Linked DNA regions of Homo sapiens: region 1 is linked to region 2. Evidence: fine-mapped expression QTL. A gene starts in region 2. The other region holds a variant in brackets. All regions are shown on one strand. Distances are between the middles of the regions. Region 1 overlaps ABI3BP (ABI family member 3 binding protein). Region 2 holds the start of ABI3BP (ABI family member 3 binding protein).

What was found. PIP is the estimated chance that this variant, and not a neighbour inherited with it, causes the effect. A credible set is the group of variants that fine-mapping cannot tell apart.
Region 1: its variant is the best candidate, but not a certain one, in a credible set for the expression of ABI3BP in pituitary (GTEx, PIP 0.78).

The regions. Positions count from the first base shown.
Region 1 is chr3:100,840,402-100,844,805 of GRCh38, reverse strand. ABI3BP (ABI family member 3 binding protein) reads left to right here. Exons shown (of 68, transcript NM_001375547.2): 21 at 2,767-2,808; 22 at 3,948-3,986. Among named protein-coding and RNA genes, the nearest start is that of TFG, 130 kb to the right of the region's middle. The variant T/G (reference allele first, on the strand shown) is at 2,452.
Region 2 is chr3:100,990,761-100,995,164 of GRCh38, reverse strand. ABI3BP (ABI family member 3 binding protein) reads left to right here and starts at 1,744. Exons shown (of 68, transcript NM_001375547.2): 1 at 1,744-1,859. The coding sequence starts at 1,781.

The sequences.
Region 1 (4,404 bases), 150 kb after region 2:
CTAATCATCAAAGAAAATCCACCCCTTTTCCTCTAACAGCAATGTAATGACTTCAGAATCCACACCTAGGCCTGTGCCCTCAAATGGACCTTGAATGGTCCATAGCAACACAGGATGATGACTGGATCTCCGCAAACCATTGCTTTGATTTTAGCTTCTTAAATTTTATTTATTTTTATTTAGGGCAGACCACCTTTATAGCTCTCCTAAAGATGTCTCTTTCTAGCCAAGGTTTGGAAGAGCAAATACACCACCCAAAGCTTTTTGAGGCCTTTCCCAGCCCTCTCCGCACACTCTTCTATTTTTCTGTTTCACTTTCCTTTACAGGCTCCTTTTCCTTTGGCTTTGCTTGGTGGTTAAGTCAACGAGTAAAAATCCACATTGATTTGGGCTTGTTTTATAAGTACAATTCAGCGCATTTCTCAAAAACCACAGCCACCTACCATGTCTTAACTTGTCTACCTCGTCCAGTGGGAATTGTTTCCTTCATGGTTTAATCTTTAAGCTTCTAATGGACTGAAAATAAGGGGGTGCCCCCAATTACAGGTGTTTGTTTCACTTGACCGTCTTCCAACGTGGATAGAATTGTAAATTGTTCTCATTCCTACACACATGTGAGTCAAATTTGTCTTTGTTTTGTGCTGAGATGAGTGGCTTAGTCATTTACAGACCACTCAGCTTTGTTATGGAACATTTTATACCTTTACCTATAATACCTTATGATTGTCAAATAGAAGGCGTGTCAGAAGATATATTTATTTTTACTAAACATAGACCTTACTGTTTTTATGTGCAATTGACTTTGAAGCTTAATTGATGGAGTTCTATCCCTATTTGGTCTCAAACTCAGCCAGGAACTCAAAAATGCAGATTTTTCCTTATAATTTCAAAAACAACGTTCTTTAATTTTTGTGAAGTCTAAAAGATGCAATGAGTAGCAAATTTTATTTTTCACTTGTGGAAGGCAACTTTGTAGAATCAAAAACATGAATTACAATCTTGAAGTTTCAAAATAATTTTTTGTTTGCTATCTTCAGGTATGAATGCTTATTTGATATTTATTGTATTTCATGTATTGATGTTTATTTTCTTCTTGTCCTATAGCATCTGAGGTACTTAGACCTATACATGCACTCCCTTACACATACAATTCCCTTTCTCTTTCTCACACACTCTCTCTCACATGCATACTCTCCTCTCTCTCTCCATCTCCCAGACACTCTTTCTTCTCCCCTTCCCTCTCTCTCTCTCTCTCTCTCTCTCACACACACACACACACACACACATCCTCTCCCTCCCTCTCTTTCTTTCCCTCCCTTCCTTTCTCTCACACATACACACACTCTCCCTCCTCCCTTCTCTCTTCTGTCATACAGACTCACTCACACACACACACACACACACTCAGAATTTTTACTTTGTTATATGAACTTCAGTCTGACACATCACTACTGCTTTTGCCGTTCATCTGTTACAATCTATTTCTGCACAAGTTCTTGAGAAATCAGAATTCGGGGCTTTTAAAAACAACTTTAACCTGCTTCTTTTGCACCTAATTTGTACTCTTTAGCCTCAACACAAAAATTTTTTGATCACAGATATGTTAATGGATGATAATGCCTTTAAATAGCACCTTATGCTGTTATGCATTGCTTTTAGAAGAAATAAAAATTCTGTACCTGCGTTATTATATTTTTCCATTGAAGTAGTTGTTGTTAGTTGCTACATAGAAACTTGTTATAGTTCTTTTTTAGTCGCTACGTATTCTCAAAACCTGCCACACTCCCTTGTCAAGTAATATCAGAGATCATTCCTGATAAGTCTAATATTAGAAATGTATAAGTAGAAGAATGACTTCAGTTCTATTAAGATGGTCTATGAAAGCCACATTGATTAGTTTCTTTCTTTAAGAAAAGTCAAAGAATCTTAACTTTTTCTTTCCATTTCAAAAATAAACAATTCCTTTTTAATTTTCTCCTTAAACAATACTTTTTGTTGATAGAATAATGAGAAACCTATTGGGTAATCTTTTTTTAAGCCCAAATATTGTAACCAAGCTAAATTCAACATGAAGTTTAATTTACTTATTGCTAGTTTGAATAAACATTGGAAAGTTTATCAGAATATTTAGATACTGTTATTTAATTTAGCATCTTATGAAATCTGAGACTGCTTTTGGACTCATTGGTTTACCAGTCCAAATGGGTTAAGTTTCATATGTGAACCAATTTGTTTACCAGCGATAGATACTAGTGAATACAGGAGGCATCATATGAACAGTTGTGGTCGCTTTTGAACAATAAGTTTAATTCTTATCTTTTTTGTGAGAGAACGTCAGGTCCAGCCAAGCTGGAGATTGCAAACTAACAGCACAGACACAGTACCAGGTGGTGAGTCTGTTGCCTGTTCCATTTCCTTGGATGAACCTGGCTGTCCTGCAAGAAACAAATA[T/G]CAGGTGACAGGACACTCTGAACAACCTCAGAGAGGCTACCCAGAACTCCCTCTAAGTTAGTATTTCCTCAGCACCAGAGGCAAACCAGAATATTGGGAAGTGACGGTAACAGCTAAAGATCAACAACAAAAATGAGAATTCTCAATTCTTGTGGTTTGTAGAGAGGATGTGGAAGGTTGAACTTCACTGGCAGAAGCCAGTAGAACCTAATCATTCACCCAGGAGAGAACTCCGTTTATAGTCAAGAACATGTCACTTCTATCTCAGATGGTGCTCTTCAGCATTGCTTTTGATATTACTTGCTTTTATTACAGCCCCAGAACCTCAGACTCTACTGCCATCACAGTCAACAATAGGTAATAAAGCTTTTTTTAATGAGTGAAAACAAAGTATCTTTAACACTCTCCATGTTCAACTTTGTTCAGCTTTGGGTTTTGTTTTTTTTTTTTTTTCTTCTCCAGATGAAGTTTCACTCTCGTTTTTTTGCCCAGGCTGGAGTGCAGTGGCGTGATCTCAGCTCACTGCAACTTCTGCCTCCCAGGTTCAAGCAATTCTCCTGCCTCAGCCTCCCAAGTGGCTGGGATTACAGGCCTGAGCCACCATCCCTGGCTAATATTTTATATTTTTAGTAGAGACAGGGTTTCACCACGCTGGCCAGGCTGGTCTCAAACTCCTGATCTCAGGTGATCCACCCACCTCGGCCTCTCAAAGTGCTGGGATTACAGGTGTGAACCACTGTGCCCAGCCTAATATTTCTTAATTTTCCTTCAGATCTTTTTCCAGCCATTTTTGCCCGAAGATATACTCTCAGCCTGTGCTTGACTTAGCAGTGGTTCTGAGACACCCATGAAAGCAATACTAATTTTAATTTGATAGATTCTTTATTCTCCTTCAATTACATTTGAGGAATATGCCCTGAGCTTGTTCTAACCTGTTTATTGCCAGGGAGGACCCTGACTTTCATAGGATATATTTATGTTTTCTCTTTTGGAGGTGTTTTTCTTACTTTCAAAACTCTAACTTTTGCAGATTTTCTTGAAAAGTGCCACGGACTAGGAAATCCACTCAAAGAGAGAAATAGAAAAACCAACCCCAATCTTTATAGCTTCTTTTTCTTCAAAAGAGCAAAAAAAAAAAAAAAAAAAAAAAAAAAAAAAAAGTGTTCTAATGCCATCTTAGCCAATTACCCATATTTTCCTTCATAACATGAACTGCTGGTTACTTTATTACAGTCACATGTTCCAAGTGAGAATCATGCCTTTTTGTTCCATTTCTCTTTCCAAACTTAACTGACTGGCTACATTTTTTTGTTCGCTTTGTCGAAAACACAGGAATCTATTGAAGTAGAAAAGAAACTTTGCATGTGGATAAAAGCTTCACCATTTATATTTGCTCAATCTAGTAATTAAAAATTAAGCATATTCCATGTTTTAAATACATGTCATTTTTCCTTTGATCTTGATTCTTTCTTGGTGATTTTTTCACATTGTCTTAGGACCTGAAACACCAGGAACCAAACCTTCAACAACATTAGGTAATAGAGTATTGAGTGGGTGACCTTTGTTTCTTCTTTTCCTGTCTGCTGGTATCTGTGTTGACAGACTCACATTAATGAATTAATACATTAATGTCCCTTTGTGTGTGTGTGTGAGTGCTCTGTTCTTCAGAAAAAAAAGTTAATTCCTATAGGTATAGTTTATAAACTGTATCTCATTTTTTAAAAGTTGCCTGTCCTGACATAATTAGTGAATTTAAAGCCTTCTGCATATATTGTTGATTTGTGGATATTTTAAATGCTAAGTGAAAAATTTATCTGTTTAAATCTTAGGCCAAATTTTAATTTTTATCCCAAATGGCTTTATAAAAGCAACCTTTCTCATGTTCCTGTTGAACATATGCCTTCAATATTTTTGAGTGACTATCTTCTCTAAGCTGTACAAAGTTTTGAGATT
Region 2 (4,404 bases):
GTGATGGCAATGACATATAGGAGCAGAACCAGCAGTGCCAGCTGGATAAATGTCCTAACCCCGATTGAGGGAACTGCTTATTCAAGTAAAAAATCAGAGATGAAAAAGACCTGTTAAATAAGCCAGTGCCTCCTGTAGTCACTGCCAGAGCATTCCTATGGTGAGAGCTTAGACCCAGCCAACTCTAAATGACTTTAACAAGGTGCCTTCTCACACTTTATTTGGAAGACGGGGCTGTCTCTTCCATTTTTTCTTCTTTTTTCTTTTTGATAAGTTTTCTAACTAGAATTTCATTTGACCAGTGTTATTTAATTTTTCTCTTACTGTTTTTGGTTCAGCTACAGCACCCCAATGAGGTAAGCGATTTTCAAAGAGTCAGTATAAATATACCAACAAGGTTTAAAGTGCTTTATTAACCCAGCCATTCCACCCATGCGTCTATATATTTTGACCAAAGTGATGTAGGGGGAAAGGATACACATGTGGACTTCAGAGGTAAATATGCCCAGGTTAGAATTATAGTTCTACTTAACTGGGGGCTTATCATTTTCATTATTATTGTTTCCAGTGACTGCCATTTAGTAAATGTTTCCTGTGTGTCAGGCTCTATGGCAACTACTTTCGAAAAACTGCTAGCAAATGTAAGAAATTGATACTGTCATCTTTATTTTAGAATCTAAAATGTAGTAATTAAGACTGGAAGCACTATAGTTAAATGGGCTGCTTAAAATGCCAACACTGTGACCTTGGACTTTCACTTGACCTCTCTGTGCCCAGTTTATCTATCTGTAAAATGGGGATGATGACAATGCCTGCCTCATAGACCGTTTTGAGGAATAAATGTCTTAACATGTGTAAACTGATTCGATCAGTGCCTAACACGGAGCAAGCATTTAAATGTCATCAATATTGATAATATAGAGATGAAGTTTGCTCAAGGACAATTCATTAGTAAGTGGCATCCGTTATTAAGCAGTAGAATATACTAGCATTGTCAGGACACTTAACCTTTTTTCCTCAGCTTTTCTTAATGGCAAAATGGGGATAATGCCATATCTCCTGCAGAGGCACTGGGAAGATTAAAATACAGTAAAGTAGGTAAAGACTCGATTACAGAACTCAGTCCACAGTTGAGGCTCACATAGTAATAGTGCTCTCTCTACGTCTCTACATCTACATCTGTTGAATATATGTGTATACACATATATATTATAACGTAATGTATAGCTTTGTAGCCAAAGACTTACTCTTAAATGTTTCTCATAATACAGGAACTACAGAATGGCTCAAAATATATCTTTATGAGTTTACTCCCATTTAAAAGAATTGGGTTGGTTTACTGGATAATTAAAAAGTTTCCTTCTTAATAAGGTTTTATTTTATATTTTTAACATTTTGATAGCTTTTAGTACATTGTTTCTGGATTCTTTAAAATAGTTTATCAAATGTTTCAAAACTGCCTAAATACTTCTTCTTTCACAAATACAGATCTGCCATAATTTGAATTTTTATATCACAGAAGGAAGAGACACAGTTACAACTTAGCAGAAAGAAAGAAATGTGATGATATGTTTTTGCTGTTGTGCTTTTTTTTTTTTTTTTTTGGTGTGTGTGGGAAAGGGTGTGATGTCATCTTGTCTCCACCCCCTGTGAGTAAGCCCACGGCACAGCTAAGTGCAGCCGCCCGCCTCTGTCACTGGGAGACAGTCCACTTAAATGCAGCTCCAGGGTTGCGAGGCACCCACCAGCATCATTCCCCATGCGAGGTGGCAAATGCAACATGCTCTCCAGTTTGGGGTGTCTACTTCTCTGTGGAAGTATTACACTAGCCCTGGGAAATGCACAGAAATTGCCAAAAGGCAAGTAGCCTGATGTTTTATGTTTTAAAAATAATATTAAGATATAGATGTTTTTAAATGTTGATTTTAAATATGATCTGCTTTACCATACGGGGGGAATAGAGTTATTCTGCAGAGATTCAAAGTTCAAATGTGTGAAGGGGTCTCTTAAACTTTTACTTTCCCCTCCTGTTATTTACTTTTCAATTACAGCTCTTTATTGCAAAAATGAAAACAAACTTATTACATTGAGCAGCTGTTCATCAGAGCTTGAACTGTATACTTTCTAACTATAGTGCTTGTGTATTGAATCATATTGTGTAAATGGATATTATAGTCTGTTAGAAAGAGTTGTTTGGTGTTTTTATCCTCCTCCCCAGAGACTGAATCAGTACTAGCTTAAGATTCAAAAGAAGCTGGTTCTGAAACCTTGAATCTTTGGTGTGAACCTCAAACATACCTGTTGACCAGGAAGCTGAGGGAGTCTAGGCAGGTCAGACCAAAGTACGGTCATGTGCTGATTTGCAGACACGTCCCTCCAGTGGAGTTTGGAAGAGGGCTTGAGCTGTTGGACAGGACACTCCCCCCTTTCTTGGCTAAATTGCTCTCATTTTAGTGTTGGTATTTTGTTTACAAATGTTATCAGAAGAAAATTAAAATTTCTAAATTTTGACCCTAAAAACAACCCTTTGAGCCCATCAGAAACCAAAACAAGAGGCTGTTGCCTCTCTCCTGTCTCTGAACATAAATGTTGCATGTACTTTTGTTTCTCTGCAGAGGCACTTCTCTAAGCCAACTCTAGGTCTGTGAAGGCTTTTTATGGTTGCAGACTGCTGTAGTCAGCAGGATTGTGAAAAACAGGCTGGAATTTACCATACAGTCATGATGGAAAACATCAGAAGTAATGCAGAGCTGCAGGCTTGTCAAGAACCTGGTGTGCCTAAAGTCAGAAAGAAAGGTTGCTAGTGTCAGAATATCCAAAAGATCATCCCTAGGTCCTCTCTCTGGGTAGTCTGCCCCAGGATCATCTTGTCCCAAGTGAAAACTGTTCTTTCCTCGGTGGGTAAAGTGAAACTTGAATCCAGCATGTGAAGGCTGAAGCGGTTGGCTAGTTGATATTTCACACGATAATGTGAACAGCAATAAAAAAGACTAAGTAAACTTTCTCAACTCTGATCAAATAATTAAAGAAAAATAAAAAACAAGCACTCTTAGATCTTTTTCTACCAAGAGTTTTGCTCCTTGATCACAATAAAACTGTGATTTAAATAAATCAATTATGAGCCACAAGCATTCAGAGTTAATTGTACCTACTAATGGAATATTTAACAGTAACATATCATTTGAGAAGAGTCTGGGGGTTTTCTCAGTCTTAATACCTACAGAAGACTTTTATTTTACTTTTTATTCATTGCATAGGGATGATATAGGTGCAACTTTGTTACTGCAAACTTCTGGACAATCCCAGTGCTTTAATTATCGTGTTGCAATCACTAGACACAAATCTCTTGACACAATTTTTCTTTATTTATAATGGGAAAGAAAAAAAAACATAGTTGTCGAAAATGGCCACAAAACTTTTGTTGTTTATTTAAAAAATATTTGTAGTTTTGGTAATTTGGAAAAAAACATCAAATTATAATAATGATAAAAGAAATGGCAAGTCTTGTTTTTAATATTATGTTTTTTCTTTATTGGAAAGCTATTGAGGACCTTTTAGCTGAAGTCATCTTTTTCAAACTGTGCTCCAGGCATAGGTGCACTGTTTGTCCTACAATGGGTAGAGTTTGGGGTGAGGGTGGAAGGGCAGCTGATTCCTGTCAATAACTTGTGGAGTCTTTAAGGGGGGAATCACAATAAGTGTTAGCAGTTTGCACATTCTCAATAAAGAAACCTGTACAACTTTTTGTTTCTCACACTCATTTGACTAAGAATCCTCTTTTCCATAGAAGATCTATAATATCTTAACAGGGGTTTGTCTGTCACAGGACACATTTGGGGAAATGTTGAGTTAAAAAAGAAGAAAAAAGAGTAAAAGTTTTTACTTTTGTTCTTCCTTCTACTTTAGAGTTGGTTAAATACTATTTGTGACTTAAGAAGTGGTTAGAATTCTGGAGCTAGAAAAGATATTCATGATCACTTAGTCTAGTGATTCCCAGACCTTTGGATTTATGGACCAACAAAAATACACAAATATTTTAACATCAGGGTCCTGTTATAGAGAGCATACTTGAATTTTGCTATGTGAGGATGCTCAAAGGGAACAGGGGAGAATGTCTAGTGTTCATAAAAGTAAACAATTTTAACAGATTTATACAATAAATAAATTTAATTTCATAAATAAGTCCATTGTTATTTTTCTCATTTTCCCACAGACTAATGAAAAATTGATCACAGGCCAATATTTGGAAACCACTGACCTAACATAACCATTTATTTTACAAATGAAGATACCCCAAAGCAGGGCAGATTCAGTAACTTTCCCATGTTAATGGTGGAGCCAGGACTTGATACCTAGCTTCTCATTCAAAATCCATGTTCTAACCTGCCTCCTGCCAGATAGGCA